Linked DNA regions of Homo sapiens. The protein of the gene in region 1 interacts with the protein of each later gene in a pairwise test. Each region holds a gene or a part of one and is shown in the gene's direction. Other genes may lie near its edges.

Region 1 (3,500 bases):
GTGCTTTTGTCGAAAATCAACTCACTTTGTGTGTGTGGTTCTTCCCCAGGACTCTCTCTTCTGTCCCACTCTTCTCTGTTTCGGTCTTTATACTGTTACCATGCTGTCTTGATCATTGTAGCTTTATATTGAATCAGGTGATAGAAGTTACCCAACTTTTCTTCTTTTTCTTTTTTCCAAAATTGTTTTGGCTATCCTAGGACCCTTTGCATTTCCTTATGAATTTCAGAATCAGCTTGTCAGTTTCTAGAAACATTTTCATTGGAACTACTTGAATTTCTAAATTAATTTGGGAAGAAGTGCCATCTTAGGCAAACTGAGTCCTCCAATCCAGTGCCATGGTAAGGTGCTCCATTTATTTAGATCAGTCTCATCCTATATTTTCTTGTAGTTTTCAACGTATTGGTTTTGCACACATTTTGTTAAATTTATTCCTACATATTTTGTGGTTTGGGATGCTATTATAAATGATTTTTTAATTTTCCACTTATTTGTTGCAAGTATATAGAAGTACAATTAGCTGTTGTATATTGATCTCGTATCATGTGACTTTGTTAAATTCATTCATTTCTGTAGTTTGTTTCTTTATTTTTCTTCTTTTCCTTCCCTCCCTCCCTCCCTCCCTTCCTTCCTTCCTTCTTTTCTCTCCTTTTTACTTTTTTCTTTCAATAAAAACAAGGTATTCTGTGTTGCCCAGGCTGGAGTAGAGTGGCTATTCTCTAGTGATTTTTTTCTTTTTTTTTGAGATGGAGTTTCTCTCTTGTTGCCCAGGCTGGAGTGCAGTGGCGCAATCTTGGCTCACTGCAACCCCCACCTCGCCAGTTCAAGTGATTCTCCTGTCTCAGCCTCCCGAGTAGCTGGGATTAAAGGCATGTGCCACCACACCCGGCTAATTTTGTAGTGATTTTTTTTTTCTTTGAACAGGGTTATTTAGAGATATGTTACTTATTTTCCAAATAATTGAGAATTTTTTAAATAGATTCTATTGCTCAGGATTTTTCATTCAATTCTATAAGGCCCAGACAACATACCCTCTAATATTTTAGTCTGTTAAAAAATGTTGGAGACTTATTTTACGCCCCAGTATATGGCCTAACTTCATGAATATTTCATGTACACTTAACGAATGTAGCATTCAATAGTTATAAAAGTCCCCTCCACAAGCTGGAAACCCTGGGATGCCAGTGTCATGGCTCAGTCCAAGTCCAAAGGCTTCAGAACCAGGGAAGTCAGTGGTGTCACTCTTGGTCCTGGGCCAAAGGTCTCAGAGCCCTGAGGAGAGAGGAGGTGCTGGTGACATCTGGGAGTCCAAAGGTCGGGGGGCCTGGAGGTGTCCAAGGACGGGGGAGGAAGAGTGTATCCCAGCTCCAGCAAACAGATGGACATATTCGCCTTATCTTTGTTTTTATTTTATCTGGGCCCCCAGCCTATTAGATGGTGCCCACCCTCATGGAGGGTAGATCTTCCTCACCTGGTCAGTCACCTCTGGAAACATCTTCTCAGACATACTCAAAATAATCCTTTACCGGGTTTCTAGGTGTTCCTTAATCGGTCACCTTTGACCTTTGACACCTAAAATTAACCATGACACCCACACCCACCTCTGGCTGCTTTCAAGTTTCTATTTTCTTGCCTTTGATTATCAGCCAAAGTTTTGCTGTGATATAATTAGAATTTGTGGCTTGATATATTTTGTTAGGCTCAGAAAATTGGCCATGATCTTTTCAAATATTGCTTGTGTTCTGTTGTCTTTCCTATCTTCTTCTGGGTCTCTGGTTACACATGTGTTCAGTCTTTTGCAATTTTCAATGTGTCCCTTATGCTTTCATCCATATTTTCCATTATTCTCTAAGCTTCAATGTGGATATTTCCTACTGATCATTTTCCATTTTACTAATCCTTTCTTCATCTGTGTCTAATTTGTCTATTTCATTATTGGGGCCTTAATTTGAGTTATTATGTTTTTCAGTTGTAGAATTTATATTTTAATCTTTTTGATAAATTCTGATTACCTGCAGAAATTCTCCATATTGTCTTCTAATAACTCCAGTATTGGTATCCCCTGGGTGAGGGTGGGGGAGGTGTCTATTTCCTGTTTTTTCTTTTGATCTTATCTCCTAGTAACCTAAGGAGTTTTTCTTTTTTTCTTGGATTCTAGACAATATGTGTGAAAAATTGTAGAGATGACTTGAGGCTTCCTTTGATGTTATCCTCACCAAAGAGCAGTTCTGTGCTTCTGCCTGTTGGTCAAGGATGGACAGCTCGTGTTCAGTAGAGGCTGAGCTGGTTTGAAACCGGACTTCCCAGCCTGTTTCTGGTTAACTCTTACTCCTGGGATGGGACCCTTCAGGGACCCCACCCAAAGCTGGGGTGCTTTTTTTTTTTTTTTTTTTTTTCCTCTTCAGATGGAGTCTCGCTCTGTTGCTCAGGCTGGAGTGCAGTGGCGCGATCTTGGCTCACTGCAAGCTCCGCCTCCTGGGTTCACGCCATTCTCCTGCCTCAGCCTCCTGAGTAGCTGGGACTACAGGCACCCGCCACCACACCCGGCTAATTTTTTTTGTATTTTTAGTAGAGACGGGGTTTCACCCTGTTAGCCAGGATGGTCTCGATCTCCTTACCTCGTGATCCGCCCGCCTCGGCCTCCCAAAGTGCTGGGATTACAGGCGTGAACCACCGTGCCCAACCTCAGGGTGCTTTTTTTCTTTCTTTTTCTTTTTCTTTTTTTTTTCTTTTTTTTTTTTTTTTTGAGAAGGAGTCTTGCTCTGTCACCCAGGCTGAAGTGCAGTGGCATGATCTCGGCTCACTGCAACCTCCACCTCTTGGGTTCAAGCAATTCTGCTGCCTCAACTTCCCGAGTAGCTGGGACTACATGTGCATACCACCATGCCCGGCTGCGCCTCTCCTCCTAGATGGACACTGAATTCCAGTGTTTGTCCCTCCAGCTCCATGAGTCTGAGAAGGCCCCACTTAGCTTCTCAGCCTCTTAGCTACCACATCCCTCTCAGCCTCCACCCCTTGAACCCCTTGACTTCCGGGCAGCAAAAGCATCGGGGCCAGTTGCTCCAAATTGGGTCTCACCTCCACACTTCCTTCTCTTTGGGGTGCTGGTCCTCGCTGACTTGGTGGTTCTCTGACACCTTTAAAGAAACTTCTTAAAACCTGGGTTGTTATCTGCAGGAGGGTTGGTCAGTTACAGAGTAGTCAGCCATGGCCATAAGCAGAACTCCGTTTCATCCACTTCTGGTGCCCCCCACCCCACATGACCCCCCACACATCTGGGGCACTAGAGAGATAGTGCCCATCAGAGAATTGTCTTTTGACAGTGGTCACTCTCACAATTTGCCGGCAAACATTCTGGGCATATAGGGCTGACTCATTCGGGACTTAGCTGCCATAGGCTTGGATTCTTGTTGGAAACAGCTGCTATAATTTATTCTGATGAATTACTGTTCCAAAGATGGTATTTCTGAGCTTTCCAAGAACACACTGGACATCAGTTC
Region 2 (3,500 bases), on another chromosome or scaffold:
CATTGAGGTGTTAGTGCTTGATATAATTAAAAATTCGACCACATGTAAGAAATAAAACTAAAATGTTAAGATCCTTCAAAATAAAATTAGGAAAATTTGAGTAGTATTTTTGTAGTGTCTTAATTCCAATGTCTTTGTGACATATTCATCTTTATATTTCTAATAAATTAGTCAAAGATAATATAACTTTTAAATTAGAAATGTTTCTCTTAGATGTATAGAGCATGAAACAAAGTAAAATATATACATTATTTTTAATTAGAAAAGACACATAATAATTGTATTATTAAATTTTCCCATGTGGTGTCTTAGTCTATTCCTGTTGCAATAATAAAAATACTTTAGGTAATTAATAAATAACAGAAATTTATTGCTCACTATTCTGGAAGCTAGGAGGTCCAAGATCAAAGCATCAGTAGATTTGGTGTCTGGTGAGGGCCTGGTCTCTGCTTCCAGAAGGGGGCAAATGCTGTGTCCTTGAATGGCAGTGTGGCAAAAAGGGTCTCACGAGTTCTCTCAGGCCTCTTCAATAAGGGCACTAATCCCATTCACTTCCCAAAGTCCCCACCTATTAATATCACTGCAGTTAGGGTTAGGTGTCAACATGAATTTTGGAGGCACACAAACATTCAGACCATAGCAAGTGATTCTCGGATTGTTTGTCTTGAATTTCTGTATACTTTCAACATGGTTGAAAGCTGTATTTCTCTTTAAATATTTAAATTGAGTATCACTAGATTAGCACCTTGTATTTAACTCTCATATGCTGCTGGTAGAATTAAAAATATGATCTCTCAGGCTGGGTGTGATGGCTCATGCTTGTAATCTCAGCACTTTGGGAGGCCAAGGTGGGCGGATCACCTGAGATCAGGAGTTCGAGACCATCCTGGCCAACATGGTGAAACCCCGTCTCTACTAAAAACACAAAAATTAGCCGGGCGTGCTGGCATGCGCCTGTGGTCCCAGCTACTCAGGAGGCTGAGACAGGAGAATCACTTGAACCCAGGAGGCAGAGGTTGCAGTGAGCCAAGATTGCACCACTGCACTCCAGCCTGGGCGACAGAGCAAGACTCCATCTTGGAAAAAAAAAAATGCTATCTCTCTTAAGTGGAGTTTCACAAGATGTATCAGAAACCCTTAAATAGATTTATATCCTTTACTTCAATTTGAAATCTATGGGTTATTCCTAAAGAAACAATTGGCTAGATATATAAAGATTAATGAACAAGAATGCAGCCTTGCTTATAAAAGTGAAATACAGGAAGCAACCCTAATGTCCAGTATTTAGGATTAGTTAAGTCAGGTGTGGCCTATTCATATAATAGAATATTGTGAAGCTATTAAAATTATACTACCTGTATTTTTAATTTGGGGAAATTATGATATAGTGTAAATATATGATATTATCATGAATTTATTTGATATTTACAGTTAAATATTGGTGACTGTCTGCCAAAGAGAGTAATTTTTATTTTGTCATTATGAAAATTGAGTCTTCCTTTCTTGTAATTGAAAGATACTGGAACCATTTGTCTCTTGAGACTACTCCCAGTTTTTTTTAAGCATATAAAATGATATTTACCTCCCATTTGCTATGGCCAAAAAGCAATATCTAATTCATGTAAAAGTATCATTATACCATTAAAATATAAATTAAAAAAAAGACTGAGATACATTTCTATTTTGTACTACTTAATAGTTATCTGGTCTTCTTGATTCTGGTTGTGGTATTAGATTTCAGAATTTTCAGGAACTTTAAAATCTGGGGGCTTTTACTGAGCTTTTACTGTCACAGCTCCCAGAGGGCTGCTCAGTCCCTCTGCCGACTGAATCTCTGGTTCTCCAGGGAATAAGCTGCAGCCTCATTCTCAGTGAGGGAGCAGATGGTCATTCTTCCAAGAAGCTAGAACCCTGACCCTAAGCCCAATCTTCTTCCGTAGGACCGTTCATGGCTGTGGCCAGACCACTGTGAGGCAGAACACTTGGTTTTCCCCACCACGTGTAGACAGATGGGCATCCGTGGGGCTTCTGCCCAGCCCTTCCTTGGCCAAGATCCCTCGCTTTTGGGATTCAAGAGATCTTTTACTGAGAGGATTAGTGTCTTCCCTGTCTGCCTGATATCCCAGTTTGGGGTCTTCTTTCAGACAAGTGTCTGAAGAACATGCCCTCACTTAATAGATATGTTCTCACATCCACATTGAGTTGGAGATCTGCCCCAATTCCAAATCTCAGTCTTGCCTGTGGAAGCCCGATCCTCCTCCACCTGCCGTGTTGAGGAATGCTGGAAAATCCAGTGAGCAGGTTCACATTGGTACAGTTTGGGTTAGGAGACTATAAGGAAGAAGTGAACAAAAGGTAAGGAAGGGAGATATTGGGACCAAAGTCTCCATCCCTGCATCATATACCTAATATGTGAATATCAGAGTTGTTTGTTGAAACCAAAAGATGGCAAAAGGAGGATCAGGAGTGGAATCAGAAGTCATAGAAAACTGGTCTCTTGGGGTATCTGTTTGGTTATGTGAATGGTAATTCAACTCCTATTATCTTGGGAAGAATGTACCTGAAATTACCAACCTGCCGTTGATTAATGAACATATCCATAAATAACTAATGAACTGGGAGCCAGGAGGAGGCATTAACATAATGTGTTGTCATTGTGTTACCAGTGCAGAGTGGATATTGCAGGGCTCAGCACATTTGCCCTGTTGATGCCTCCATGAGAATTCATTCATTCATTCAGCCAGCCAGCCAACCTACCAATAATTACCCACCATGAGGCAGACAGAGCAACTGAATCCTAGGGTTGTAATGGTGAACAAAATAGAGATACACCCTCCTAACCTGAGCGGCCTAGCCTGGGAAACAAACAATTAAAATGTGCGCTAAATGCTGTGGTAGGAGGTCAGGGGCTATGTCCTGGACCAAAGGACATTTGCACTGAGACCTGACACTTCAGGTCTTCAACTCCCTTGATGGGAGTTAGCCAGAACGGGCTTAGAAACAGCAATTGATGGCTTAGTGACTGATTTTACAAATGATATTTGTTTCTTCTTTAAATTTCTTTCTAGGATGTTCACTTCTCCACAATGAATGAGTGTCACTATGACAAGCACATGGACTTTTTTTATAATAGGAGCAACACTGATACTGTCGATGACTGGACAGGAACAAAGCTTGTGATTGTTTTGTGTGTTGGGACGTTTTTCTGCCTGTTTATTTTTTTTTCTAATTCTCTGGTCATCGCGGCAGTGATCAAAAACAGAAAATTTCATTTCCCCTTCTACTACCTGTTGGCTAATTTAGCTGCTGCCGATTTCTTCGCTGGAATTGCCTATGTATTCCTGATGTTTAACACAGGCCCAGTTTCAAAAACTTTGACTGTCAACCGCTGGTTTCTCCGTCAGGGGCTTCTGGACAGTAGCTTGACTGCTTCCCTCACCAACTTGCTGGTTATCGCCGTGGAGAGGCACATGTCAATCATGAGGATGCGGGTCCATAGC
Region 3 (3,500 bases), on another chromosome or scaffold:
AGCGGGGCAGAGAGGGGCATCCCAGAGGCAGAGGCAGGAAGACTGAGAGTCTGCACAGGACCGTCACGGTCCCTCTCCTCTTGACCCATGACTAAGATGGGTCCACCTCGGATGTCCTTCCTCTTTACGTTGCCCTGGATGCTCAGTTTCCCAAATAATATCCACCTAGACCCAGGAACAGGGCAGGGAGGGAAGGGGCTCATAGTAGGGTCTGTCCATCTGAACAGGACCCTGCACCCTCTTGAGTAACATGGGCAGATGCCTGGCCTGATTTGTCCTAAATGAGGCCTGGGTCTGACGTGCCCCCACCCCTACAGGGGCCATTAGAGACCATGAAAGGGTTTATGGTCTCCAATGGGCAGCCACATAGCCCAGGAGTGGATGTTTCTCTCAGGTTCAGGGCAGGAGACACCGGTCTTTTTCACATGCTAAGCCCAAGAAAGGGGAGAGGTCAGCCCATCAGTCCTCAGGCCCCCAGTTCAGCCATGTAAGAGTGAAGCTGAGGCTTCCTGTTACCCTGAGAAGGAATCCTACCCACTGGAGGCCCCCTCCCTCCATTTGAGGACACTTAATGGAGAAGAGGGAGGAGGAACACTGTACCTGGACCACCAAAAGAAAAGCATCCCCCCAGAAGCTCACAACCTGGCTCCTGCAGACACGTAGCCTACCCCTGTGTCTGAGTTAAGATCATTTCTATCCAAGCAGCCAGCAGCCAGGCGGAGCCTGGCGTTTATCTGGTGGGGATTTGGTGAGCCAAATGCTACCTGTGTGAGAGTCACCTCAGCAACCCACCAGGTGCAAACAGCTGTGCCCCCAGCAAGGCACTCCATGGCCCTCATCTCAGGGCCCTCCGCTGGGAAGGATTTTAACTTATGGCTTTTGAGCAGTCAGGGAGGCAGCTGACCATGAAATACACTTGAATTCAGTCAATTCTGACAACTGAAATTGGCCCTTCAAGAATGAAACAGAAACAGAAATGTTTCTTTGTCCAGAGGGAGACACATGGAGACTTATGACATAGCATGGGCCATTTTGAAGCAGTGATTCGAGAGATCTACAGCCAATAATCTAACAAATAGAAGAGATCTGCATTATGCTTTAAAATAGCACCGGATGCCCAGAGAGAATAGCAGAGCACCAATTCTGACATCACCACCAGCAGTCAGACACCCCAGGTAACGCGGTTCAAAAGGAAAGTGATTTAAATATAGAAGCACACAGAGAAGGCTGTTTATGCCAGGAATGGGTACTGCTGCTAAACCAGATCCCATCTCCAGGGGTCATTTGCTTCCTCAACCTCAGGAGAGGCAGCAGCCCTGGCTCTGGGGGGAAGGAGGGGCATGGTATGAGACCACAGGCTTAAGGTGCAAGAAGAATGATTTAGGTCCGGTTAAAGAAAGTCTTCATCCCAAAGAAAAGCCTTGGTATCACTGCAGGTACATTTCCAGAAAGAACTAGGCATCAACCGCCTTATGAGCATCTAAATGAAGCCTGGAAGTGAAGAAATGAATTGGCAAACTAGACACCATCTCAACTAGAGAAAGAGATGTTTTTCTATTTAAGGGTCACTGATCCACAGGAAAAGAAATCAATGAAGGGCCTCCACAAATAAAAAGCAAACTAATTTAGTTTTGGAAGGAAACATAATATAAAATAACCCATTCATCCACTTCCTAAATCAAGAGCAAAGAAGATAAACCGTATTTAGCAAGAAATAAGACTGTGCTTTTTTTTTTTTTGAGACAGAGTCCCACTCTGTCACCCAGGCTGGAGTGCAGTGACACGACCTCAGCTCACTGCAACCTCTGCCTCCTGGGTTGAAGCAATTCTCCTGCCTCAGCCTTCTAAAGTGCTGGGATTACAGGTGTGAGCCACCACGCCCGGCCTGTGCTTTGATTTTATAGTATACCTAGCTATGAGAGAGAGACTGAAAGAGAAAAATGGAAATGAAATTATATTTTAAATCAGCATGAATTTCCTTGTGCTGAGCCCCTCCCCTCTCCCTCATCAAATTCAGATTTGCGTTCCTACTGCCCACAGACTTTCCATAGCTTTTATGACAATTATCAGGTGGGCCAAGCGGCTTTGTGGGGGCAGGTCTCATCTGGGCTGTCTCGCAAAGACCAGGGACCCAGTGAAACCACATGATGGTCACATTCAGCCCTCGTAGGGGTTCCATCTGCATCCAGGCCATCCCAATGGCCACTCGGAAAAAGCCCTTTGCAGGGCATTTTAAGGGGCCTGGAGCAGGGTTCCCATCCTGGCTGCACATCAGGCTCTCCCAGAAAGCTTTTGAAAAACACTGTTTCCCAGGTCCCACCAATGAACCAGGGTGTGCCTGGATTCTGATGAGAAACACAGTCCCAGGTTTGGGGTTGATCCAGGGTTTCTCAACCTTGACACTCTTGATATTTTGGCCTGGATCATTCCATGTTGGGAGGACCTGTCCTGTGTGTCTTGGGATGTTCAGCAACGTCTGTGGCCTCTACCGGCTGGGTGCCAGGTGTACCCCTCTCACCACCACCATAACCCCAGGCATCGCCAAGTGTCCCCTGGGGGGGCAGAATCGGCCCCAACAGAGACTGCTGTTTGGTTCTTTGTTGATTGTGCACCCTGCACACCCTGAAAAATGGCTTGAGCCTGGGCCTCGGTTACCCTGTCTGCCTAATGGGGTGCAGAACCCACAGGCCGTCTGCCCTGCAGACTCATCCAGCCTCAGCTCCCTGAAGACCTCCCAGCCCTGCAGGCAACCTCATTATCCCACTGAGATGTTGTTCTAAGGGTCAAAGACAGATGTTTCAGCCCAGATTAAGGATCTGGGGAGAAGAGAGGCTGCCAGAGCCCCCTGCATGCCGAGCAGAATGACACCACGCTCTCTGCCAGGCCTCTGTCCTTGCTACGGGTTGCTCCCCTCAACTCACAGTCTGTCTCCTCCTTTGCAGAGAAGAACTGTTCCTACTTCAGGCATTTTAACCCCGGCGAGAGCTCGGAGATCTTCGAATTCACCACTCAGAAGGGTGAGCCTGGGTGGAAAGGGGTCTGGGGTGACAAGAGGGGACTTCTGTGTTGTGCACCACTGGGCCAGAAAGTCATTGGCAAAAGCACTGACTTCCTCACGCCTGATGAGAAGAAGCCTGTGGTGCATTTGAACAACAGCCTTGTCAGCTCCCCGCTCCGGAGGCCCCAGGCAGCCGCCTTCCATCTCCAGGGCCCGGAGCTTCCACACCTCGGGGCCAGGGAGCGTTTGCAGAAGCAGCACCTCCTGGTAGGCCCCTACACAAGGGCAGCTGTTGTGACGGGAGGTGTGGATGTGGAACAAATGCTCAGAAGCCCCGTGGTGGCTCTTGGTGGCATGTGATAGTTAGAGTCTGCAGGGACAGTCTGAGTCCCTCCCTGGCCTAGAAATCCCTCCCTGAGTACCAGGAGGGTGCGGTGGGCTCTGGGAGCTTTTCAGGATCCGCAGAGCTCAGACGCACACCCATTGTCGGGAGTACAGACCC
Region 4 (4,241 bases), on another chromosome or scaffold:
CATATGGACACAGGAAGGGGAACATCACACTCTGGGGACTGTTGTGGGGTGGGGGGAGGGGGGAGGGATAGCATTGGGAGATATACCTAATGCTAGATGACGAGTTAGTGGGTGCAGCGCACCAGCATGGCACATGTATACATATGTAACTAACCTGCACATTGTGCGCATGTACCCTAAAACTTAAAGTATAATAATAATAATAAAAAAATCCAAAAAAAAAGAAAAGAAGAGAAAAGAAAGGGGCTCCCACAGTGCAGCGGTGGGCTGAAGGGCTCCTCAAGTGCCGCCAAAGTGGGAGCCCAGGCAGAGGAGGCGCCGAGAGCGAGTGAGGGCTGTGAGGACTGCCAGCATGCTGTCACCTCTCAGTGGGAGCAGGTGTGACAAGAGTTGGGCAAATCAGACCTTTAATCCACCCTGATAGGCTGGAGTGTGGGCTTATGGCATTTCTCCTTTGACCCAATTAACCTCCACTCCCAATGTATCTCTGTGCAGAAGGCTCAGCTAGGTGTATCAGCCATTGTAAATCCTCAACATAAATTATAATTTAACCTAGAATACAGAGACTAGGTAGCAGGAGGAGAGGAAATGTAGAGATACTAATCTCTTCTCCCTTATCAGAAAGAAACCTAGCATAAGAAATTTCACGCTTAATGGGCCAAAGAGTAAATCAGAAAACTCCATGGGTGATGGTATGCTCATGGTGGTGGTGGTGGTGATGGGGAATTATTTGCCCTCCTGTGACCTCCCTTGGATTAATTTCTCCCCAGGACAATGGGAAAAATCATTTAATCCTTGGAGTTTTTTTTTTTTTTTTTTTTTTTTTTTTTTTTTTTTTTGCTTGAGAGTGACTCTGATCCTGTTTCTGATGGTCATGTTCCTCAGCATCATACTGAGTAAGTCACTGGCCTTGTAGCATCTGGAGTGATTGGAGTGATCCAAGATCCCTAGTTCCCATGTCACAAATGAGGATCCCACATATCTGGGACAGAGATGGAACATTATTTCTGGGTGTGTCTATCTAATCTATTCATCCTATCTATCTAATTTCTCATCTATATATATATTTGCCTACCCATCCATCCATCAATCCATCTTAGCTGTACGTTTATCCATTCCATCTATTTATCCTATTATCTATGTATCTATCTATCATCTATTAATAGCTATCTATCCATCTGTCTAATATATCCATTATCTATATCTACTTTATCTATCTACCTAATGTATCCATCCTATCTACTCTATCTATCTGTGCATCTACCCATCCATCTGGACCCTGAGCTGATTCCTCTGCACCCAGCTGGCCTGACGCCAGGTGTTGATTGGCTGCCCAGGCTCAGGAGACACATCCAGGCTGCAGGGATTGGTTGGCCCAGCCCAACCCAGCCAGCCCTCCCACAGCCTTTGCTATATCAAGGGCCAGGGTCAAAGGCCTCCCAGCAGACAGAGAGAGGAGGTTGTCTGGGACAGACTGCTCCTGACAGAAGGTGCCAGGCTGGGGGTGGCAGGCCTGGGGGGGGTCCTGGCCTGGGATGGAGAGGGGCACTGCCCAAGGCCCACGCAGCTCCTGGGTGCTGGCCTGGAGGATGGGTGGTTTCCGAGTAACTGAAACCAAGCCCCTGGCAACCTCACAGTGATTCAGGCTGGGCCTTTCTGGACTTTAATCAGTCTCTCTCTCTCTTTCCCATTCTAAGTGCTTACTAGGGAACTGGAGGCCACTTGGCTGCTGGTTTTGGTTGGGCCTTTCTGGACTTTACCTCTCAGCCCCTTTTTACCCATCCCTGAGCCCTCCCTGCTCTACCTCCGGCACTGCCCGTCCCTGCCTCTCCACTGTCCCTGGAGGTCCCTGGGCCGTTCTCTGGGCCTCAGGATCTCACCGTCCATCCCGTCTGCCCTGCAGGATGTCCCAGCTGAGCCTGTCCTGGCTGGGCCTCTGGCCAGTGGCAGCATCCCCTTGGCTGCTCCTCCTGCTGGTCGGGGCCTCCTGGCTCCTGGCCCATGTCCTGGCCTGGACCTACGCCTTCTATGACAACTGCCGCCGCCTTCGGTGTTTCCCACAACCCCCAAGACGGAACTGGTTTTGGGGACACCAGGGCATGGTGAGTGTGGCAGCAGGATGGGTCTAGGTCTCAGGATGGATGGACTTCCTGAGGGGTACGAGGCTTAGGGAGTGGGGGTGAAGGGGTGGGCTGGGATCTGGGGTGGCAGAGAAGCAGAGGAGGCATCTTACTCATTCCTCTGCTTATTCATTTCTGTGAGGTGCCTACGCAAGCCCTTCTCACTTCCTTGTCCTCCCACTCCAGGCCTGCATTGAATCCTTTTCCTGCCTGTCTTCCCACATTAATGCACCTCTGCGGGGCTCCTGGGCAGAGGGTTGGCTGCACAGAGAGGCGAGTCCCTGGCATTCCCACATTCTCCATTGCTGGACTCGAGGCTTCTTATGCCCACTGTCCAGGGTCCTCTCCTTGCCTGGACTATTTCCTGTTATGAGGGTACAGCTGGGCCAGAGGAGAGGCATGGGCCGTCTCCCACTTCCACTACACCCGAAGGCACCTTTCTCTTATATTCTTCTTCTTATCTCCCTCTTATCAATGAGACCTGTTGCCAAACCCAGATAAAAGTTGGCCACTCACTTCACCTTTCAGAAGCTTTCCTTGGCCTTTCTCCTCCCCGTGACCTTGCCCTCTGACTTAGACCGCTCTCCTCTTTGGGGAATGTGGTCTTAGTCTGCTCATTTGCAAATGGCAGGATTGATGGATGTGTCCACAGATAAAGTGGAAGGGTGCACAGGACACACTAGCACAGAGCCTGCTGCAGAAGCTGCTCCCAGGTGGGAGCCATTGTCCTGATGGACAGTTAGAGTCACCTCTGCTCCACTAGTGGCTGCTGAAAAGGGAAGGTCTCCCATGTGCAGAACCTTCTCCATGGGAGGAACTGGAGCCTCTGTGGATCAGCCAGGACATGAAGGCATGTGGGGACCAGCCTTAGGGACATGTCCTGAGGCGATACTGCTCCCCACAAATCTCCCCTGTGAGGACCTCCCCATATAGCTGCCTCTGGGCTGAAATGACTCCCAGAAAAAGAAAATCCTTCCTCTCAAGATAACTGGGCCTCTGTGAGTGGACAGTGCGTCTTCTCCCTCTGCCCTGGGATGCACCCTTGGGACTTGGAGATGGACCCAAGAGAGATAGAGCAGGAGGAATGTGGATAGATAGATAGATAGAGCAGGAGGAATGTAGATAGATAGATAGATAGATAGATAGATAGATAGATAGATAGCTAATAGGATAGATAGATAGATGCACAGATAGGATGGATAGATGGATGGATGGATGGATGGACAGGCACGTAGGTAGATAGATAATAGAATAGATGGATGCATGGACACATGGATGCACAGATAGCATGGATGGATGGATGGATGGATGGATGGATGGATGGATAGATAGATAGACAAATAATAGGACATATGGATGCATGGACACACGGATGCACAGATAGGATGGATGGATGGATGGATGATGGATGGATGGGTAGATAGAGTAGATAGGATGGATAGATTATGTAGACAGATGGAGTAGATATATATGATGGATAGATTAGACGGATAGATGGCTATTAATAGATGATAAGCAGACAGACAGATGAATATATGGATGGATGAAAGCACAGATAAAATGGATTGATGGATAGATGGGTAGGCAGATAGATATATAGATAGAAAAATTAGATAGATAGGATGAATAGATTAGACACACCCAGAAATAATGTTTGACCAACTACCTGGGCATCCCTTAGCCCAGTCAAGTAGACACCTAGAATTAACTATCACAGAAGGTAATGACCCCTGCCTTGCTTGCAGGTCAACCCCACAGAGGAGGGCATGAGAGTTCTGACTCAGCTGGTGGCCACCTACCCCCAGGGCTTTAAGGTCTGGATGGGACCCATCTCCCCCCTCCTCAGTTTGTGCCACCCCGACATCATCCGGTCTGTCATCAACGCCTCAGGTACCATCTGGAACAGCTGGTGGGGCAGTGCATTTGAGGCCTGCACTTCCGCTATCCCCAAGCTCCTGTGTGGGCCCTGCAGTACTCTGGCCTCTCCTTTCCTTCCCTCTCAGCTATCTTCATCTTTCTTTCATGTATTCATCAATTTCCATCTCAGCGTCTCCTCTCTCTATTGCCATCTACCCCCTGTTCTGGTGTTCTGGGCTGCCCTGGAACCCTAAGAGACCTCAA
Region 5 (3,500 bases), on another chromosome or scaffold:
AGTCTCCAAATACAGTCACATTGTGAGATTCTGGGGGTTAGGGCTTCCACATATGAATTTTGCAGAGGACACAATTCAGTCTATCAGTTTCTTAAGCAGCCCAAACTTGAAAGGTAGGGTCCTTGGGTCAACCAGGCTTTTGAACTTGGGAGAGGAGATCAGTATTAGCTCATACTTCTTCAGTTACCCAGCTGTGCCATTAGCTACTATCACTGAAGTAAATGCCTCTTAATGTTTGGGTCTGTTTTGACTTCATTGATTTTCATTGTTTTCAGTTAGATTCTCTTCATAACTCAACTTCCTTCACAAGTCTGTTAATTTTCCATTGTCTGCACATAAACCATGTTTTTTTAAAGGCCCTCAGAGACCCTACAGATTTTAACCTCTGTGTAGCCAGGAGAAGAGAACTCATATATATCACAAACTGTAAAGATGAGTAAGAAGTTGTTATTTAATTCAAATTCAGACCTTTCATTTGCCAGCTGATTTCGGGGGAAAACAGAAGTCTCAGTGATGTGGTCTAGCACATGCACCAAGTCCATTGTAGGAAGAATCAGAAAGTTGATCATAAGTCCTTCCAGTGGATTACTCATATTTGTCAGGTTTGTAGCTGGTAGAAGGCCCTACATGCTTGCTTTAAGACCAATTAGTAGACACTCAGATGGTCACTGAATTGCTTTTTCTGTGTGCCAAATTATATTTTCTTGGATGAAATAAATAGCCCTTAACCCTGAGAAAAACACAATGGCCAGAGAGCATTATAATTTGTTGACACTCCTCATTCCCTCATCCTTGTCCTCTGAAAACTTAAATAAATGAGTACTCAGATTGAAGCTAACCAGCAAATCTCTCAGATTCCATTGTTTAGCATAGCAGAGTTTAATGCTTTCCATATTACTTAATATTTCCTTCTTTGGACTTTCCATATAAAATTCAAATACTTTCTATCAGAATAGTCATCTAAGAGAAAATTTCCATTAGCATAAAGCACAAAGATACATACTTTCTGCATAAAAGAATTATCTAGAAAATCTCAGTCTCTCTGTGTGTACATGTATATGCATCTATATCTAATATCTAATATATGCATGTATATTATATATATCATGTATACATTTTTTCTTTTTTAACGTCTACTCCCTTGGAATTTCTATAGCCATGTCATTGCCTGTGGAAGCCTTCGTTGGCTAGAAGGATTACAATAGTAATACAATAAAAAAGTAGGCCAGGCGCAGTGGCTCACGCCTGTAATCCCAGCACTTTGGGAGGCCGAGGCGGGCAGATCATGAGGCCAGGAGATCAAGACCATCCTGGCTAACACAGTGAAACCCCATCTCTACTAAAAATACAAAAAATGAGCCGGGCGTGGTGGTGGGCTCCTTTAGTCCCAGCTACTCAGGAGGCTGATGCAGGAGAATAGCTTGAACCTGGGAGGTGGAGGTTGCAGTGAGCTGAGATCTCACCACTGCATTCCAGCCTGGGCAACAGAGCAAGACTCTGTCTCAAAAAAAAAAAAAAAAAAAGTAAACATGAGTATAGTGTTAACATGTTTTCTCTTAGCTCCCTTCTGTATGTGATATCAAATTATGTCTCTACAGGGAAAATTTTGACTTATGTTGTAAATTTTGCTACTCTCCTCAAAAGCTCATGGCATATGCCCTTTAGACATTTTTGACCTTCCTTTGGGGGAAACTTTTGCACCTGCCTGAAGCTTGAAGTATATGTCAACTCTTGGTGTCTTTCCTAAAGTTATCCCATGTATGTTTCATGGTTTATAAAACAAGTGGTGGCCTTTTTGTTTAGTTATTTGTTTTAGTACATCTGATATTTTCCTCCATCTATCACTGTCTTTGTTGTTTTGCCTATGTTTTAGAAAAAAGAGGAATAAAAGTGCCTTTCATCCCCACCCACCCCATCCCTCTTAAACCAGAAGTCCCAGCATCACACTTTCATGGCGTGTGGGTGCAGCTGTCCTAGTGGCTCTCTGACAGCCCAGCCAGTCCTCATCACTGCGCCAGGGCCTCCCGTGTCACCCAGCACATGGAGGGGATCAGTGCTCTTGAGAATCACAAAAGAAATCAAAGAATAGATAAGGAATCAGAGATGTGTAACTCACTGATGTTTTTAACTCATTTTTTTTTTGCCCATTGATATTTTGTAGTCACTATTTCCATCTTTCATAATCATCCCTGTTACTGTGAGTCACTGTTCCCTTCATAGTTACTAGTCTATTATTTTCCTAAACTTTTAAATGTTCCTTTCAAAGAAAGTGACATTTCTTTCTCTCTTTTCCCCCCTCCTTTCTCTCTCTCCTCTCCTCTGTTTTAAGAAGAATCTAGGTCAGTATTCTCTAGAAATCATCATATGTTTTCTACTGTTTCTGTCTTGCTATGCTATTTGATGTTTTGTATCTATTTATGCAATTTCCACCAGACTTCTCACTCTAATACACAGAAATTCATTTTGAGGCCAAAAAAAGCCTGATAAATTGTTCATTCCCAAATCCCATTAATTTTATTGCAAAGTCATATTTATACAATATATGAATGTGCCTCTTTACAAGTATTTGTATTTGTCTGTTCTCAGACTGCTAATGAAGACATACCCGAGACTTGAGTAATTTATAAAGGAAAGAGGTTTAATTGACTCACAGTTTCACATGGCTGTGGAGGCCTCACAATCATGGGGGAAGCCAAAGGAGGAGCAAAGTCACGTCTTACATGGTGGCAAGAGAGTGTGTTCAGGGGAACTCCCCTTTATAAAGCCATCAGATCTTGTGAGACTTATTCACTATCACGAGAACAGCATGGGAAAAACTCGCCCCCATGATTCAATTACCTCCCACTGGGTCCCTCCCACGACACACAGAGATTATGGGAGCTACAATTCAAGATGAGATTTGCGTGGGGACACAGCCAAACTATATCAGTATTTTAACACAAAATTTTTTTTTCACTAAAACATTTAATTTTGTGATTTTTCGTCTTTCTGTCTCTAATGTTATTTCCCACCTTTCCTTTCCAAGGTGCTCTGTCTTCACCGTGGCTTCAGAGCTTCCCCTGTCCTTTCTGTACCTTTTTCCCTGTTCCCGCAACTGCTCAAAAGGGTCTAGAATCCTGCTGTAGTTTCATTCTTATGACTTAGGACTTTCTTCCTTATTAAAATGCAAACTCTCCCTGGAGCAATGCCACAAGGAATCACATGAAGAAGCATCATTTTTACTTTTTCTGTGCCTCCTGGCCTGGAATGGAAGTGCCAACCTGGACGGTTCATTACATCAGAAGGATGGAAGAGCATTAATGGCCAGGAACTGATGGAAGCAGAATTATGCCTGTAGGAATCTGTAGCATAAAAATGCTTATCATGTGTGCAGATGATTAGTGATAACATTTAGAAGTAAACATCTTCATCACTTTGGTGGACACAGTCAAAATCCTAAGGGGCAGAATTCTTAAGCACCCTCTCTGTGCCAGGGGAGTACCAGACATCCTATAGCTACA
Region 6 (3,500 bases), on another chromosome or scaffold:
ATCATCAAAATTATCAATCTTTTCTCTCATGGTTAGTGCTTTTTGTGTCATGTTTAGGAAATCTTTTTTTTCTTGAGCCAATTTCAAGTTCATGTTTCCATTAATAAGAAGTAGATATACTTGAACTTTGCACATGTAAAACCTAAATGTACCTATTAGCCAAAAAAATATTTTCCTTGTTTACTACAGTTTGATTTTTAATGCTCTTTTGGCCTACATTTTAAAAATACTTATATAGGTAACACCCTGTTTTAGGGGTTTCCAGAGAAACAGAACCAATAAAAAGGATGGACAGATGGGTAGATTAGATAGATAGATAGATAGATAGATAGATAGATAGATAGATAGATAGATGAGAGGTGATTTATTATGGGAATTGACTTACATGATTATGGAGGCTGAGAAATCCCACAGTAGGCCACCTGTAAGTTGAAGAACTAGGGAAGCCAGTAGCTTGGCTCAGTCCTAGTCTGAATGCCTGAGAACCTGAGTGGCTGCTTAGTACAAGTCCCAGAGTCTGAAAGCCAGAGAACCTGGAGTTGTGATGTCCAAGGGTAGGAGAGGATGGGTGTACCAGTTTCAAAAGAGAGAGAGCAGAGAATTCACCTTTTTTTCTGCCTTTTTGTTGTATCCGGTCCCTCAGCTGATTGGATGGTACCCACACACATTGGGTGAGGGTGGATCATCCTTATTCGTTTCACTGATTCAAATGTCAGTTTCTTTCGGAAACAGCCTCACAGACATATCTAGAAATAATGCTTTACCAGCGATCTCAGTATCTCTTAATCTAGTCATGTTGAAACCTAAAATTAACCATTATACATCTTGAATCATGGAAGTCCTTAAGGCTGTCATATCCTTTTTCTTTTTGAAATTCTATCCTTCTGTTTTATATATTTCTTGAATATATAGTGGAAGATTGTTTTTCTTGTGAATTTTTGTTAGTTTACATTTTCAAAAGATTGCTGATAATTTTCTTTTTTGTTTTTAATTAAAAAGAGACCTTTAGTTGAGTAAATACTTCTCATTTACCATTGATTTACTCTTGCTTTCAGGTCCTAAAGGGGATCCAGGTCAGACTATAACCCAGCCGGGGAAGCCTGGCTTGCCTGGTAACCCAGGCAGAGATGGTGATGTAGGTCTTCCAGGTATGTGAGGAATTTATTTCAAAGTAACTTCAACACCGATGGCTTTTTTTTTTTTTTTTTTGACAGAGTTTCGCTCTGTCACCCATGCTGGAGTACAGTGGCGTGATGTTGGCTTGCTGCAGCAACCTCCTACTTCTGGGTTCAAGCAGTTCTCCCTGCCTCAGCCTCCCAAGTAGCTGGGATTACAGGCGCCCACCACCACGCCCAGTTAATTTTTGTATTTTTAGTAGAGACGGAGTTTCTCCACGTTGGCCAGGCTGGTCTCGAACTCCTGACCTCAGGTGACCCATTGCCTCAGCCTCCCAAAGTGCTGGGATTACAAGAGTGAGCCACTGCACCTGGCCCTGATGGCTTCTTTCTTTGAACGTTTTCCTTTCAATAACTGCTGTTTCTCCATAGGTGACCCTGGACTTCCAGGGCAACCAGGCTTGCCAGGGATACCTGGTAGCAAAGGAGAACCAGGTATCCCTGGAATTGGGCTTCCTGGACCACCTGGTCCCAAAGGTATGTTGGAATGGGTAGCAGGCAGAGTAGGTTAGAAGTTTAGCATGATGTTATTCTCTCATAAAATTCATTCAACAAATAAAATATATTAATTGCACCTTTTTTCTCTGTGCTATAAAGAATGTAAATAAAAAATCACAGTGTATTTTCACTGTAAGTTCATTATCTTTATCTAAAACAGTCCAGACAAGAAAATATCTACATTTTAGATATGCAAAAGTGATATATAAGCTTAAAAATCACAGGAATTATTGTGTTTTGTGTTCACCATAGTATTTTCAGGGTTTAGAACAGTTCCTAACACATAGTGTGCACTTGATGTTTATTGAGTTAAAGGATTTTTTAAACAGAAAACAGACTTATTGCAGATGTGTAGCCAAGTAATGTTTTATGCTAAATAATATTTTCTTGATTTATTGAAATTTTTAGGGCTTATGCTTCAGTTCTGCTTTATTCCTCACAGAATTTATTCTCACAAATGGCAAGAGCACACAGTGGTCTGAGGACAGTTCTTAAATATATCTTTACTCATTTATACAAAATGCTTTCAAAAGTATCAGGTTTGATTTTATGTGTGTATGTATCTATAATATCTGCAGTTATTTTTAGATCATTTCCAAAATTATATGGTAGGCCCTTTGTCATACTACATCCAGATATAAGCAGAAGAAAAGTTCTTGGGCATTTTTGTGTGGGATTCATTCCTTACAATTTAGTTCTATCTTATTATATAATAGCCCTCATTTTCTTCAGAAAAGCATATGTTCCACATACATTAGCTCTATGTGAAAATAAAAGGAATGTAAGATGATTGAGAGGATTGTAAGGCTTAATCCTAAGTAGTAGAATGTCATTGTGCTTTTGACATCTTACTGTTGTCACTAAGCATGAGTAGAATGTGGGTTTGGGAATTTGAATATCTTTCTTAAAGTGCCTTTCCTTTGGTGGTTAAAAAATGACTTATCATTTTACAGGCTTTCCTGGAATTCCAGGACCTCCAGGAGCACCTGGGACACCTGGAAGAATTGGTCTAGAAGGCCCTCCTGGGCCACCCGGCTTTCCAGGACCAAAGGTCTGGGACATTTTTCTTTATTCCTTCTCATTTTCTTATCTTTCCCACCTTCCTTATTTCTAGCTCTCTATTTTGACTCAGATATCATCCCAAGCCCCAAGTCTTTACTATAAATATACAGATAACTTATTATATTTCCATTAAAAAAATATTTAACCCCAAATCATCTTTAATAGTCCAAGGTCACATTTGGAGCAAAAAAAAAAAAAAAAAAAACCTAATTTCTGTACCTACTTTTGAATGCCCAGTTCTTTGATTAGAGAATACAGGCATACCTTGGAGATATTGCAGGTTTAGTTCCAGACCACCACAATAAAGTGAATATCAAAATAAAGTGAATCACACAACTTTTTTTGTTTCCCACTACATATAAAGGTTATGTTTACACTATACTGTAGTCTTTAAAGTGTGCGATAGCATTAGGTCTAAAAAAAACCATATGCATACCTTAATTAAAAATACTTTATTGCTAAAAAATTTTAGCAATCATCTAAGCTTGCAGCAAGTTATAATCTTTATGCTGGGGGAGGGTTTTGACTCAATATTGATGGCTGCCCACTGATCAGGGTGATGGTTGCTGAAGGTTGGGTGGCTGTGGCCATTTTTTTAAATAAGACAACAATGAAGTTTGCCACATCAATTGACTCTTCCTTTCAGAAAAGATTTCTCTGCAGCATGTGGTGCTGTTTGATGGTATTTTACCCACAGTAGAACCTCTTTCAAAATTGGAGTGAGTCTTCTCAGACCCTGCTGCTGCTTTATCAACTAAGTTTATA
Region 7 (2,586 bases), on another chromosome or scaffold:
GAGGTCATGGAGACATGGGAAGCAGGTATTCACATTAGCTCTATTCAAGAGGAAGAGGAGGAGGGAGTGTGCGCAGGCGCCCTAGGGTCTTCCCCAGCACACGTTGGGAAGAAGGGGTCTGCAAGCATGCGCACAATTGCCAGCTCAGGCTAAGGACTGCAGGAGGTTCCAGGTGGGTTGCGGGCTTCGGGCAGGCTATGGTGAGGGGTCCTGAGGGCCTTGGTGACCGCTGCAGGGAGTTGGACTTTTTGAAGCGTGGCTCAAGAAAAACCCATGTTTAATTCCTGCCTTTCGCTTCCTCAGCAGCCTTTCTGGGCCCAGGCAGGGGCCTCGAGCCAGGGAAGGATCCTTTGATGACCAGAGGGGACAGCAGGGAGGGCACAGCGTGGTCGTCCACGGTCACTTGCGCACGAGCCAGTGCTGCTGCTGGTGTTAGACAACAACTTTTATCAAAGTGGTTTAATGTACAGCAGCAACAAAGCTGCTTTGTGGAGCAGGGCTCCCAATAGGCAGTGTGCCCAGAGTAGCAGCTCGGAAGCAGTACTGCAATCACATTTATACCCACTTTCAACTATATGCAAATTTAGGGGTGGATTATGCCAAAATTTCTAGAAAAAAGGTCGTAACTTCCAGGTCGTGGGATTGTTGCTATGGAAAGGAGCCAAAACTTCCAGCTGTTGCCTTAGCAATGGTAACCTGACGTGGCACTGGTGAGTGTGTTTTATGGAGAGACTCTTTCACCTCTTCCCTTTCAGCTTGTCTTCAGTGTGGTCTGGAGCCCAATCCCCACCTCCAGAGTCTAGTCCTGCCTCCTACCTCAGTAATAAAAAGTAGTAGTATATGGTTAATTGTCAAATACATTTGCAAAGTGTAATCAAAGATACATTACCAATCTGAATCTCAAAATGTGCTATCATCTTTGAATTTGAATAATGTATTATTAAAGAAGTTACAGTTTTCCTTTACATTCAATAACATTTCTTTAGTGGTTTTCTTTTTCAGATACTTTGATTATGATCTTTTTTTTTTCATCTTTGTATCCCCGTTATACAACCCAGTGCCTGGCATAGAAAGTGGGATCAACAAATGTTTGGAAAATGAATTGTAAAGTTGACTTTCCTGTACCTTTTTAATATTAGATTTCTAGCTACCAGACTTTTGACCATTTTCTAAATTTTCTACCATAGATAACAGAAAATTCTTTCGCGCAAGCATGTCATTGTATTAATGATATTCTCCTGCCCTAAGGAAATTTACTTCCCTTCAAGCACAGGGTCCCCCAAATTACTGTATTTCCACCCCTTTCAGCTTATTTTATCCTTTTCTCCTGCTACAGAACAGTTGGCATTCACCATTCCCTTCGGTAAAGTCTTTTTTTAGGCTGTGGCTTAAAGGTTGCTTTTTCCCCCATAGCTCAAGGTTAGGCCTTGTGACCTCACTTATGTAATTTGAGTGATTTGATAGCACAAATCAATTTTATACTTAAATTACAGCATAAAACAGCACTGCCTCCTGTTGGAAAAACTTGCTTGCTAATTTTAACCAGACACAGTAAAAATACTGTCCAATACCTCAAAAATTGTGTAAATATATATCCATTTCAATTGTCCCCCTTCCTCTCCTCTCCTTTTATCTCTTGGAAGATAAAAATGTATGGGTCCTGTGCTGATAATGTTTCTGTTCATATTTCTATGCCCTGGTACCTGGATCAGCTTTTGTTCTACACAAAAAGACTTGTATCTGGCTTATTTCTGAAAGCTAGTGTTGGCCATGATGAACTTTTAGAGCAAAAGATTTCAGGCAGAGTACATTCTTACATATTCTTACACAATCAATATTCAGTTCCAGCCCGCACAGTAGCCCTAGCAAATGCCAGTGCTCCTTCCAGAGATTCACCTATGGATTCAGTACCCCAGAAGAGAATTTCTGTAAATTCTTGGGGAAGCTATAGCTAGACTATGGCTCAACACTCATTTTTCCCCCATGATTCTTAATCTAACAGTGGCAATGTTGGCCTCTTCTTAGGCAACTAGATTCGGTTCTTGCTTATTCTGCCAATAAAATACTTTATTGAGATGCTTACAAATTTGTCCCCTCCTCTTTATTTCTTTAAGAAGTTATCACTCCATATACTGGATGTTTAGTTATAATTATTGGTTTGAGTCTTATTTTTATACTTTCAATCACATTCTTTGCCTAATTCTTCTCATATTTTTATATTTTCTTTCCCTCCTCATAATTCTCTTTACATACCACTAAGTTTAGGCACTTGGACTTTTTTTACTTTCAAAATGGTGTTATATTGTGCATATCCTCTTGACTTCATACGTCTGAAGACTCCTAGACTATCTTTTCTACTACATGCTAGCAGAATGTATCATGATGAACACTGAAGAGAATTGCATACCACTGCTCAAAAATTAAACACACACACTTGCATGCATGCAAACGTGCGCGCGCGCACACACACACACACACACACACCAAGGATAGACATCTCAATCTCAAGAAATAAAAAGGAAAGAAAGACTTTCTGACTTCCAGTTCTGCAGAAGGATCAACTCCAGGTTTTAAGCCTGAATTATC

What was found.
Region 2: the proteins of THAP4 (region 1) and LPAR3 interact in binary tests that used the Homo sapiens proteins (3 or more experiments, as listed by UniProt).
Region 3: the proteins of THAP4 (region 1) and CACNG1 interact in binary tests that used the Homo sapiens proteins (3 or more experiments, as listed by UniProt).
Region 4: the proteins of THAP4 (region 1) and CYP4F2 interact in binary tests that used the Homo sapiens proteins (3 or more experiments, as listed by UniProt).
Region 5: the proteins of THAP4 (region 1) and AIG1 interact in binary tests that used the Homo sapiens proteins (3 or more experiments, as listed by UniProt).
Region 6: the proteins of THAP4 (region 1) and COL4A5 interact in binary tests that used the Homo sapiens proteins (3 or more experiments, as listed by UniProt).
Region 7: the proteins of THAP4 (region 1) and GIMAP1 interact in binary tests that used the Homo sapiens proteins (3 or more experiments, as listed by UniProt).

The regions. Positions count from the first base shown.
Region 1 is NC_000002.12:241,585,159-241,588,658, reverse strand, and holds part of THAP4 (peroxynitrite isomerase THAP4), read left to right. Parts: intron 1-3,500. UniProt on the Homo sapiens protein: Heme-binding protein able to scavenge peroxynitrite and to protect free L-tyrosine against peroxynitrite-mediated nitration, by acting as a peroxynitrite isomerase that converts peroxynitrite to nitrate.
Region 2 is NC_000001.11:84,865,707-84,869,206, reverse strand, and holds part of LPAR3 (lysophosphatidic acid receptor 3), read left to right. Parts: intron 1-3,068; 5' UTR 3,069-3,086; coding exon 3,087-3,500. UniProt on the Homo sapiens protein: Receptor for lysophosphatidic acid (LPA), a mediator of diverse cellular activities. May play a role in the development of ovarian cancer. Seems to be coupled to the G(i)/G(o) and G(q) families of heteromeric G proteins.
Region 3 is NC_000017.11:67,051,054-67,054,553, forward strand, and holds part of CACNG1 (voltage-dependent calcium channel gamma-1 subunit), read left to right. Parts: intron 1-2,942; coding exon 2,943-3,017; intron 3,018-3,500. UniProt on the Homo sapiens protein: Regulatory subunit of the voltage-gated calcium channel that gives rise to L-type calcium currents in skeletal muscle. Regulates channel inactivation kinetics.
Region 4 is NC_000019.10:15,895,275-15,899,515, reverse strand, and holds the start of CYP4F2 (cytochrome P450 4F2 precursor), read left to right. Parts: upstream 1-1,441; 5' UTR 1,442-1,490; intron 1,491-1,903; 5' UTR 1,904-1,904; coding exon 1,905-2,102; intron 2,103-3,865; coding exon 3,866-4,010; intron 4,011-4,241. UniProt on the Homo sapiens protein: A cytochrome P450 monooxygenase involved in the metabolism of various endogenous substrates, including fatty acids, eicosanoids and vitamins.
Region 5 is NC_000006.12:143,137,389-143,140,888, forward strand, and holds part of AIG1 (androgen-induced gene 1 protein), read left to right. Parts: intron 1-3,500. UniProt on the Homo sapiens protein: Hydrolyzes bioactive fatty-acid esters of hydroxy-fatty acids (FAHFAs), but not other major classes of lipids. Show a preference for FAHFAs with branching distal from the carboxylate head group of the lipids.
Region 6 is NC_000023.11:108,600,338-108,603,837, forward strand, and holds part of COL4A5 (collagen alpha-5(IV) chain isoform 2 precursor), read left to right. Parts: intron 1-1,055; coding exon 1,056-1,148; intron 1,149-1,547; coding exon 1,548-1,652; intron 1,653-2,626; coding exon 2,627-2,724; intron 2,725-3,500. UniProt on the Homo sapiens protein: Type IV collagen is the major structural component of glomerular basement membranes (GBM), forming a 'chicken-wire' meshwork together with laminins, proteoglycans and entactin/nidogen.
Region 7 is NC_000007.14:150,722,199-150,724,784, forward strand, and holds the end of GIMAP1 (GTPase IMAP family member 1), read left to right. Parts: 3' UTR 1-2,086; downstream 2,087-2,586. UniProt on the Homo sapiens protein: May regulate lymphocyte survival. Required for normal levels of mature T-lymphocytes and mature B-cells.